Homo sapiens: one gene and its partners. The protein of the gene in region 1 interacts with the protein of each later gene in a pairwise test. Each region holds a gene or a part of one and is shown in the gene's direction. Other genes may lie near its edges.

Region 1 (3,748 bases):
TACACCATGAGAGAACCCCACGGACAGCACACAGAGTGGGAGAGGAGCAGTTCCTCTGGGAAAAGAGGGTGCTGAATAGCAACAAATAGCAGCAATGTCCATGTGGCCTCGCAGCAGAAGGTGGTATTGAAACCAAGGGTTCCTACCTTAACACCCTAGAGGAATGACAACACTCATTTGGAAAAGGGCTTCTATGTGGTTATCTCAATGAATTCTTGCATCTATTCACTGAGGGAGGCAGGACAAGCATCGTCACCCCCATTTTCACATAAGGGAATGCTACGTTTTCTGTGTTACAGAAGCAGAAGCTATATGAGCCAGTGGTGATCCCTGTGGGCAAGCTGTTTCGACCAAATGAGAGACAAGTGGCTCAGCTGGCCAAGAAGGATTACCTAGGCAAGGCGACGGTAGGTGGGATTGCTCAGCTTCCCCTGAGTCTCCTGTGGCCCGGGCCATGTGGAGCAAGGTGGGAGGGACTCTTGAGAAGAGGGTAGCCTCCTTGTGGCTCTGTCCCTGGGATGGCAATGAGAGACTTGTTTATAGGACAGAGGTTTGGCTGAAAGATAGGCAACCATGTCTAGTTTATTTTCTCCAAGCTGCTCCCATTTCTCCCTTCCAGCTCGACCCTGGGTGAGAGCCACAGGGTTACTCACAGGATGCTGAGTCTTAGGGACTGAGCCAATGGAGGGAAAACACAGCCATGAGGAGCTCACTAAATGTGAAGAGAGGGCCAGGCAGGGTAGCTCATGCCTGTAATCCCAGTGCTTTGGAAGGCTGAAGTGGGAGGATCACTTGAGGCCAGGAGTTTGAGACCAGCCTAGCTAGTGGAGAGGCTGAGGTGAGAGGATCACTTGAGCCCAGGAGTTCAAGGCTACAGTGAGCTATGATTGCACCACTGTACTCTAGCTTGGGCAACAGATTGAGACTCTGTTTCTAAAAAATAAAAATAAATATGAAGAGAACATGTTAGGGAAAGAGATCAGCATGGGATCCTCTTGGATTAATGCTCCTTGTAGTTCACGTTTTAGTGGGCTGAGGAGTCTTTCCCCACTTCCACAGCCCTATGTTTAGACTATGTCTTAAATTGGACTTCTTCTAAATCCAGGTCTTGGCTGTGCATGGTGACTCATGCCTGTAATCCCAGCACTTTGGGAGGCTGAGGCAGGTGGATCACGAGGTCAGGAGTTCAAGACCAGGCTGGCCAACATGGTGAAACCCCATCTCTACTAAAAATACAAAATTAGCTGGGTGCTGCGGTGCATGCCTGTAATCCCAGCTACCTGGGAGGCTGAGGCAGGAGAATCGCTTGAATCCGGGTGGTGGAGGTTGCAGTGAGCTGAGATCATGCCATTGCACTCCAGCCTGGGCAACAAGAATGAAACTCCATCTCAAAATAGTAATAATAATAATAAATCCAAGTCTTAAATTCTTTCAGACATGGTCTGAAGTGAGTCAGCAGTGCCCTTCCAAAACCACATTTGACTTGACACATTCATAGGGCTAAAGTTGCCCAGTGGTCGGGTAGCTGGGTCTAGCATAGCAGCAGAGGTCAAGAAAGCCTGGGTGAGTGGAAGCCCTCCAAATATCTATCAACTGATGAATGAGTAATCAAAATGTGATATATCCATGCAACAGAATACTACGTAGCCATAAAAAGGAATGGAGTATGATTCATGATACAACATGGATGGACCTTGAAAACATTATGCTATGTGAAGGAAGCCAGATACGAAAGGCCACATGTTGTACAATTCCGTTTATAGGAAATATCTGGTGCAGCCTCTAAGCACTGAGAGAGCAGAGACCATGTCTGCTTGATCTCCACTGAGTCCTCACAGCCTGGCACAGTGCTAGACACATAACAGCTCTCAGCAAAAATGTTTTGATTATATGAATGAATGATGAAAATTATCTATAGTTTAAGCATATTTGTGAATAAAGCTAGCTTTACATCTGATTTTTAAAACTCAGAGAAGAGGGCTCAAGTCAGTCACAGAAAGCAAACCGGTTGTTGCCAGTTTAGGGGAAAGGGGAGTGTGGACACACTGCTTAATGGGTACAGCATTTTCTTCTGAGGTGATGAAAATATTTTGGAATTAGAGAGAGGCAGTAGTTGCACAGCATTGTGAATGTGATAAATGCCACTGAATCATTCACTTTAAAATGATTAATTTGGGCTGGGCGTGGTGGCTCATGCCTATAATCCCAGCACTTTGGGAGGCTGGATGGGTAGATCACCTGAGGTCAGAAGTTTGAGACCAGCCTGGCCAACATGGTGAAAACCTGTCTCTACTGAAAATACAAAAATTAGCCGGGCACAGTGGCGGGTGCCTGTAATATCAGCTACTCGGGAGGCTGAGGCAGGAGAATCACTTGAACCTGGAAGGCAGAGGTTGCAGTGAGCTGAGATCACGCCACTGCACTCCAGTCTGGGTAACAGAGCGTGACTCCGTCTCAAAAAAAAAAAAAAAAAAAAAGATAATTTGATGTTATACAAATTGCACCTCAATTAAAAACATTTCTTTTTTAAGAGAGAAGAAAGCAAGCCTGTGTTAGCAGGGGTGGGGTGAATGCTCGTTTCTTCAGTTGCTGAAATCCTAATCCAGAGGCTCAGGAATCTAATCCTTAGTTACTGTCCACGTCTGAAACCAGGCTCACGTAAGAACAGGTCTAGGGCATGAGCAAAGAGGGAGACCCAGAAGAATGGAAACAGTGCTGGCAGAGCCTCACACCCTCCTGTCCTTGATTTTAGGTCGTGGCATCTGTGGTGGATCAAGACAGTTTCTCTGGGTTTGCCCCTCTGCAACCACAGGTAAGGCAGTCCTGACCTTCTCCATGGACCTAGGTCTCGAGAGCTTTCTGTGAAGCATTCAATTCGAGAGACTATGTGTGCTGAGTTGCCTGATTGTAAGGGCTCCTTCAAGTGGCCCTCAGTGCAGCTGAGGGATCTGCCTGCCCTCTCTCAGTCCTGGTTTCCATGGCTGGTGAGGAAATAAGGCAGTGTCAGGCTTCACCCCAAGTCCTCTGAAGCTAACTCTCCTGCTTCCCCACAAATGCCGGTCTTCACATCTCTAAAGAGATCTGCTGATCCTCTCTCTGAAGCCTCAACTATTCTCTCAGGAAGCTGAAACACAAGCTATGGAAGGCTTATTAACAAAGCCTCTTCTTGAGTACAGGGGCAAGTGGGGAACCCTGTGGGGCCTGGGCCTGAGGTTTGGGCTCTCCTGGCTCTACCCATCTGCTCATGTGCAGGGGTTTCCTTCGGGAACACAGGCAGCGCACTGAGAGTGAACCCTTTTTCTGCCCAAGCTGGGCTTGGAGAGGTGAGCTCAGATGAACTGGATGATAGTGGATCTAGAAATGCACACAGAGCTTCCTTGTGAAGGAAAGAGGGGAAAACACATTAAGGAAAATACGAACTCTGTGGCAATGAACCTGTGATGGGCAAGAGTGTTGGTCAGCACTAGCAGAGGGCGGTTTTCTGAGCAGGGGCAGGTATGTTCCAGATCTAGATTCCTTGATCTCTTTCTTCACAATAAAGCTGATGAAAGCCTTGCTGAAGTCCCTTGAGCTTCAGTTCAGCCAGAGGCCATGAGGGGAATGCAGCCCAGGTAACTGGATTCCATGGTATTCAGTGTAGAACAGGGGAGGAGATTCTTGCCCAGTCAGTGGATCCTGTGTCAATTTTAAATACTCAGAAGTGGCCAGGCACAGTGGCTCACGCCTATAATCCCACCATTTTGGGAGG
Region 2 (3,748 bases), on another chromosome or scaffold:
GGGATGCTCCCCACTCCTACCCAGCTCAACGTGACTGATCAGCTAGGCCCAGGTGGAATCTGGGACCCTGGTCTGGGCTCTTAAGGGAAAGGAAGCCAGAGTGTATGTGAGGGGGGAGAGTCTCTGATTTGGGATGGGCCTGTGTGGACAGCTTCACAAAAAAAGGAGACAGTGTCCACCATTGGCTCCATAAAGGCTTCAGAATGTAAACAGAGCAGTTCTCTCTTGCCCCTGGAACTTTGTGTGTGTTGTTCCCTACTTGATTGTTCTTTAAAACTTTACTCTGGGATCACCTCCCAGGATCCTTCCTGGACATCCTCCCTCGACCAAGGCTGGTGAAACATCTGGCTCCCAGCGCTGTTGCTTCCCCCCTCAGATGCCTGGAGACTGCAGGGCAGGGCTAAGTCCTCTTCATTTCTGTGCCCAGCATGGAGCCTGGCATCTACTGGGTGCTTCTCATCTGTTTGTTGAATGAAGGAAGTATCCTCTGAACCTGATTTTGGGTAGATGGTGGAGTAAACTGAGCGGCAGTTTGCATACTGTGGGCAGGTGGCAAGGGCCCACAGGCCCACCACAGGATTGGTGACCAGCATTGAGGGGACACTGAGAAAAGTTCTTCAGGCTGTTTCTTCCCAGCCCCGCCACAGGCTATGCTGGCACCTGAGAGAGTTCTTATCCCACCCTGTGCGGAACTCCTGCTGAGCAGAGTGGCTTTGTATTCTTCCTTCCAACTCAGGCTGTTGGTGCACTGCTAGAGGGCTGCTGTCTCTGACACTGCAGTAGCCACAGTCGAGCTTGAGCTGGCTGGTCCAGCAGGGGCTGCTCCGCAGCCCTGGGGCTCAGACCAGAGCAATGCTGTGAGAGTCCTGGTACTGGCCAGTGCAGAGACTGCACATAGCAAGGGCTCAATGAAGTTTACCAAAAGAAAAGAAAGGGGGTTTTGTGGCCTCTGTCCTGTCTGTGTCTCTTGCAAAGGGCTGGCATACTATAGATGCCTAATGAGGGTATATGGACAGAATGAAGTGATTGAACATGTCCATGAACAGGGCAGAGCTCCTGGGAGAGGAGTAAGTATAATCCTGGGGCAGCCACTGGAGCCTGGTCTAGCTAGAGACAGATAGGAAGGGTTAGCTTGGGATTCTGGCTGGCTGGGTAGTGAGTTAGACTCTAATGGTGCCTGTGAAGGGGGGCTTCCTGGAGGAGGGGGTCTGCTGGGCAGCTGTGAAGGATGAATACCATTTGCCAGGGCCAGGCACTGGGGGTCAGAGGGACCAACTCGACAAGAACACTGCAGCAGGAAGACTTGGCCTGTATTCCCAAGAGCTTGGGTGGGTGTTTCCTGGCCTGGTGGGGAAAGGGCCACCCTCCCTGGACCAGCCCATGGGGTCATCCAGACCTGAGTTCGAATCCCAGTTCCACCTATGGCACTGGCTGAGAGACTCAGCATCAGGTGAAGCCCTGGCAGGAGTCCTGCTCTCCACTCATAACCTGGGGGCAGAGTGCCTCCCTGCAGCCACAGGTTATGGGGACAGTCTACCAAAGCTTGGAGGTATGAAAAATGGGTGAGGGAGGCCAGGCGCGGTGGCTCACACCTATAATCCCAGCACTTTGGGAGGTTGAGGCAGGCAGATCACCTGAGGTCAGGAGTTCAAGACCAGCCTGGCCAACATGGTGAAACCCCGTCTCTACTAAAAATACAAAAAAATTAGCCAGGTATGGTGGTATGTGCCTGTAATCCCAGCTATTCGGGAGGCTGAGGCACGAGAATCGCTTGAACCTGGGAAGTGAAGGTTACAGTGGACCGAGATGGTGCCACTGCACTCCAGCCTGGGGGACAGAGCAAGACTCTGTCTCAAAAAAAAAAAAAAAAAAGAAAAAAAAAGAAAATGGATGAGGGACCCACTGCTGAGAGTTTGGTGGGAAGGAGTCTCCCATCCTAGAGGCTGCCTGGCCTGGGTTTGGAGCCCTAGGGAACCCCCTCCCCTGCCCTCAGGCAGCTGTTCACAGCAAGTGGGGAGCCCAAGGCGTGCAGATAGTTGGTGCCAGCAGGAGTGACAGACTGCCCTGGGGACCTTAGGCCCAACCTCTGGGGGTCTAGGTTTGGAGATGTGGTAGGGCCCTGGGTGCCAGGTGGGCCAGTACCCACCCAGGCTGGCCTCCAGCCCCTACACTCTACCCCAGCCCTCTCCTTCACTGCTGGAGCTCATTAGCACTTGAATGGGGGGCGGGGCGGCTTGGGCCTCTGAGTCTCTTCTTCCCACCCCTCCCCCAGGCTTGTCGGGGCTTTGTCTGCAGGAGCAGGCAGGGATAGAGCTCCCACACTAAGGAGTGAACAGGGGTCCAAGCTATAGCTGACCCCCTCTGCCTGCATCCTGCCCAGTTCTGCTAGGCTCAGCCCCTGCCTCTCACGCCAGTGTCAGTGCAGCCAACATGAGGTCATACCTCTAGGGTAGGAGTGAGACTAGGTCCTTTAAGGGATACCTCTGAGCTGAGAGACTAGGTGAATCAGGGCAGCTGGAGCTCAGCTGGGGGCATCCCAGGCGGGTTGGGGAGAGGAACCCCAGACAGAGGGCAGAGCAGGTGTGAGGACAGAGAGAATGAGCCGCGCTGCTGTGGCAGGAGGTGGAAGTCAAACCAGTTGCGGGACACAGGCTTCCATGTCAGAAGCCCTGAGGCAGCATCACACCACCCACTATGTGTCAGAGCCTAGGCTGCTGGATGGGGCCTGGGGATGGTCCGGGACCCCTTTGGCCCTGGGCAGCTTGTCAGCGGTTGGCCCTGGGTGGCCTGAGAGGTAGGGTCACTGAGTGCCATCACTGATGTCCCAGGCCCTTGAACATCAGTTTGCCTGGCAAGTGGCAGCAGGTAGTGCTGAGGGTGGGGTGTGGTCAGGTCCCAGCAAGGTCCCTAGGCCTCCAGCACTGCAGGGGGTGGGGCAGTAGGTGCACTTGGGGCTACTTGGGCCACAGGCAGACACACAGGTCCTGTATACTCTGCCGTTGATCTTAGTTCTTGGTCCCTGGCTGTGACTCTCTCAGTCTGTCTCTAAAAGCCACCCATTCACTTGGCGGGAACAGGATGGAGGAAGCTTTGTCCACCCAAGCTCTTAGCCACTGAGGAACCAGGGACTCCCCCCACCCCACCCACAGCAGAGGAGGAGACTGTCACCCCAGAGCCTGAGTGCTGCCTCCCCTACATCCCGTTGTGCTGTGGGGGGAGGCAGGACCGGGCAGATGGGGGCAAGGTACAGGCCAGGGAGTAGTCTCATCTTCCCAGCATCTCAGGCCAGGAATCCCAGCCTAGGAGTTGAGCGAGGAGGGGAAGGGGTCAGCAGGTTCTGGCCAGGCCACTGCTGATACACCCTGCCTAAGAGTGCTCTGCAAGGTGCTTTGGGGAAGGCAAAGGATTGGGCCCTTTGATGGTGTCCCTGGTACCTGATGCTCTCAGGCAGCCCTTCCCTCAGCTACAGGTGCAGGGTGGAACCCCGTCTGCCCAGCCCCACCCAGCCCTTCTAGCTTGAAGCTCTCGTTCTTACTAAACCCCAACCCCACCCTCACCCTGATGTTACTTCTTGGGGCTGTGGCTGCTCTTGGTGGCTGGGGAGGAAGAATCTTTCTGGAATAACCAAACATTTGCTGGGCTGGTTCTTCTGTGCCGGCCTCTGTGCACATTTACAAGGCTTGAAAGGCAGCACCACACCAGTCTGAGCAAAGGCCTAAAGGTGGGGTCATCTCAGCCTTGTTGGGGA
Region 3 (3,748 bases), about 13 Mb from region 1:
ACTAATTGGTGCGTTTGTACAGAGTGCTGATTGGTGCATTTACAATCCTTTAGCTAGACCCAGAGTGCTGATTGGTGCATTTACAACCCTCTAGCTAGACAGAAAAGTTCTCCAAGTCCCCACCCGACCCAGAAGTCCAGCTGGGTTCACCTCTCACTAATGATGCTGTTTGCTTGTCTGTTTAAAATGCTGACAGCTAGATCTCCTCATTGTAAAGTAACATTTCTTTTCCTTTAGAATTATAAAGAAATATGCGGGGTAAAACTTTGCCTCACTTTAAATTATTTTAAAGTAAATTAATAGGGCTTATTTGAATCCATTGTTTATTGGTGCTTGCAAAATAGTAACTATCATTATTTTTCTCCATTCCTACCAGGTATTTTCTGTTAAGAAGAGCTTTTCCTTGTTAAAAGGAGGTGAAATCTGGTTTATTTCCAAAAGCATTAGATTAAATCCTTCTTTCTTTTAATTACCAGCTTTCAGAGTAAAGATCTGATGCAGTAGTTGCCTCCAGTGGAAGTGGGGTTCTTTTTTCCCTGTTTTTCTATGTTGTTGAGTATCATTATGGATTTCTTTTTTTTATTTATTTAATGTCTTAAATCAATCCCAGTAATTCCATTTGATTCCCAAATTGCCTCAAATTCACCAGTGTCCTTTTTACATAATCTTATCTTCTTAGTCTCTGACTATGTCCTTACTGTCAAGCATAAAATGTTCCAGGCTCATCTTGTACTTTTCCTGCCACAGACAGACAGTTTATCTAGTTCAGTCCCAGTTTCAGCTATCTATTTATTGCTCTGGTTTCCAGCTCTCTCTTTCTTTCTGGCCTCTGGGCATTTTCTTTAGGTTTTTTTGTTGTTGTTGTTGCTATTGTTTTTTCAAGCTCAGGTTTGCATTTTTTCAACACCAAAATTTTTATTCAGTGACAACTATGGGCTGAATGCAAAAGTGAACGAAATAAGTTCTCTGAGCTCAAGGAGCTAACTTACATTCCAAAAATCCTTGTTATATTATCTATGCATTTTAATGTATATTTTGGTCTTCCAATTTTACGTATTGTGAAGATTTTAAAGTAATCTAGCCTGCTATATTACCATTAAAGGTGTTATAAATGATAATTTGTAAAATTTTACATTAGTTTGCAGAATTAATATTTAGAAAAACAAAAAATAGGAAGTCCAATGAGGAAGGAATTGCAGTACTCTAGGTATAAAGTGATTAGACTATTGGTAGAAGTAAGAATGTAGAAAAAAACTGGACTACCTGAATATCTTGAAGGAAGAAAAGATAGAATTTTGTAACACTTTAGTAAGAGGGCATGATACAGAGGAAGGAGTCAAAATTAGCTGCAAATTTTCTTCCCTTTCAGAATGAAAGAATGACTATAACATCTACAGAAATAGTGTAGCTGGTGTGAATGGGTGGGAAGATAAAAATATATTTTGTTGGGTAAGGACTGTATTTCTATATTTAATATACCATGCAGTGCCTTAACATGGTGTTTTACACATAACGGATAATCAATAATTGCATCAATGTACTACATTTGAAAAAAGCAGCAGAGCAACTACGTGCACGTCTCAAAGCAACTGGGAAAACAGGACTAGAAGACAGTGAATAAGTGACAAGATTATAGGTGAGCAGGGGGAGTAGAGGTGCTTTCTTTGCATCCCTAGAGCCTGGTTTGGTGTTTGGCACACAGCCAGCCCTCAATTCACATTTACCAAATAAATGAACCTATATCATTTGCATAGACATAATAGCTGAACCCATGGGAATAGATCTTAAACCAGAGAACATGCAGTTAAAAAAGAACCCTTCTTTCCTATGCCCTGCACTGCTAACAATTGCCTGCCTCAGAAGAAGCAATTCTAAACATACCTTGAGTTCAGGATAATTGGTGGAGTTGGAATTTCAGGAACTGTTTTTTGTTGCTGTTGTTTGTTTGTTTGTTTGTTTGTTTTGGTTGGGGGAGGTGTATTCTAGATTTAAGACATCAAAGTGACAGACTTGCCGCCTTCAAAGTTATATCCATTTTGTACAACGGTCAGATTATCTCCATAAGTTAGAGCTTGTAAGTGCAATCAGGGCCATTCAGGCCCCCAAATAGAAACCTCCCTTATTAGCTGGACTGCTGTATAGCATTCGCTAACTAAAAGGTTATCGGATTCCCCTCTCTCCTTTCAAGCTGACCTGACAGCCCTTTCTATTCCCATCCTCAAGGGGGCGGTGACTACGGAGCCACTCCTTATACACGGACGCTCAAAACTGCACCAAAACTTCCCTGCTCGGCTCCCCGGTGCGTCAAACTCTGAGGCCACCGCCTCAGACTGAGCCTGCGCATACAAGAGGTGCAGAGCAAGCGCATGCGTCGTGACGGCCCGGCTTAGGCGACTCTGGGCGGGTCTGGGCCGCTCCAGTGTTTTGGGGCACAGAAGCTGTGGGAGGAGCTGGAGGCTTCACCGTGGTAACCACAGCGCCGCTGCTGCCCCGCCTTGCAGGCCTCAGGACTGTCATCGCCTCTGGGTGTGAGGGTACTTTGGCCACCGTCCCCGGAAATAACCGCGCCTGCCTCTCAAGATACCCCATCCTCTCCACGCCGCTGCCGCTGCCGCCATGCAAGGGGAGGACGCCAGATACCTCAAAAGGTGACGACTCCCCAAGGCTCTGTCCTACCCTCCTTGCCAGGGCCCTGAAGATGTTCTTGGGTTGGCTGTGAGATGTCACTGGGCAACGCTAGTTTAGCAGACGGGATGGGAAGCAGGGAGAGAAGTCACCGAAAGGAGAGGGAAAAGGTGAAGTGGAGAAAAAAGGAGAGCTCTGGGGGGGTTTCAAAGTCCTTTGACCTGACTCGGCGGAGCCCTGACAGCATTGAAAGATGGTTTCTTCGCTACATCACCTTATTCCAGGGGGAGAGGGAGGTAGGGCAAGGTAAACCGCGTCTTTTGTTTTTTTTTTCGCCTCTTCCCAGACTCTCCATTTTCCCATAATAGATAAATCCCATGAGAGCCTGGGAATAAAGTCTGGTGCATCCGCCCTCAGGCCTCAGTTTGGGGTTCATTGCCATGGGCTTTTGAAATGATGAAGGGGAAAGAAGTGGTGGATTCTACTTTTTGGAAGGCTGAATTGAGATGTTGATTTCCAGTCTCTTTCTGCTTTCCGCATCCATGTCATCCATTTGACTCCCATGTATACAACATAATTTTTGTAGGACATTTAGTAATTATTAAGAGGTTTGTTCAGAAGTTTGATGACAATAAAATAGGCCATAATTTCTTTTAAATATAGTATCAGTTACTCAAAAAAATTGTAGTCTGTTGGGATTATTTGGGTGCTGGCAAATACTCAGATCATTCCTGATTTGGAAAAAAAAAAAGATACCTCCCACTGAACCAAGAGTAAGCAGTGATCCAATAGAAAAAAATTTTAATTCAGTACTGATTCAGTAAATACCCTGGAAAAGTCGCATGTATTCCTTTGGGCACGGTTTCCTCATCTGAAAATGGGACAGGCGTTACCTTCTGAGAGATACAAGGACGAAAGATGAAATACTTTTAAAAAATGAAACATGAATGTAAGGTGGTGGTATTATTTCAAGTCATAATACACTTGCAGTGAATATTTTTATTCTGGCTTGGCTGAGCTCTCATCATCACAGAAAGATCTTCCAAGTGTTAGTAGACTCATAGAAGGGATTCAAACAATTGTATAATAAATAAATCAACTCTATTGTCCTGGCAAGACAGGC

The links.
Region 2: the proteins of NCF2 (region 1) and GNAI2 interact in binary tests that used the Homo sapiens proteins (3 or more experiments, as listed by UniProt).
Region 3: the proteins of NCF2 (region 1) and KIFAP3 interact in binary tests that used the Homo sapiens proteins (3 or more experiments, as listed by UniProt).

Annotation. Positions count from the first base shown.
Region 1 is NC_000001.11:183,569,844-183,573,591, reverse strand, and holds part of NCF2 (neutrophil cytosol factor 2), read left to right. Parts: intron 1-299; coding exon 300-407; intron 408-2,752; coding exon 2,753-2,812; intron 2,813-3,748. UniProt on the Homo sapiens protein: Subunit of the phagocyte NADPH oxidase complex that mediates the transfer of electrons from cytosolic NADPH to O2 to produce the superoxide anion (O2(-)).
Region 2 is NC_000003.12:50,239,065-50,242,812, forward strand, and holds part of GNAI2 (guanine nucleotide-binding protein G(i) subunit alpha-2), read left to right. Parts: intron 1-3,748. UniProt on the Homo sapiens protein: Guanine nucleotide-binding proteins (G proteins) are involved as modulators or transducers in various transmembrane signaling systems.
Region 3 is NC_000001.11:170,073,336-170,077,083, reverse strand, and holds the start of KIFAP3 (kinesin-associated protein 3), read left to right. Parts: upstream 1-2,388; 5' UTR 2,389-2,616; coding exon 2,617-2,648; intron 2,649-3,748. UniProt on the Homo sapiens protein: Involved in tethering the chromosomes to the spindle pole and in chromosome movement. Binds to the tail domain of the KIF3A/KIF3B heterodimer to form a heterotrimeric KIF3 complex and may regulate the membrane binding of this complex.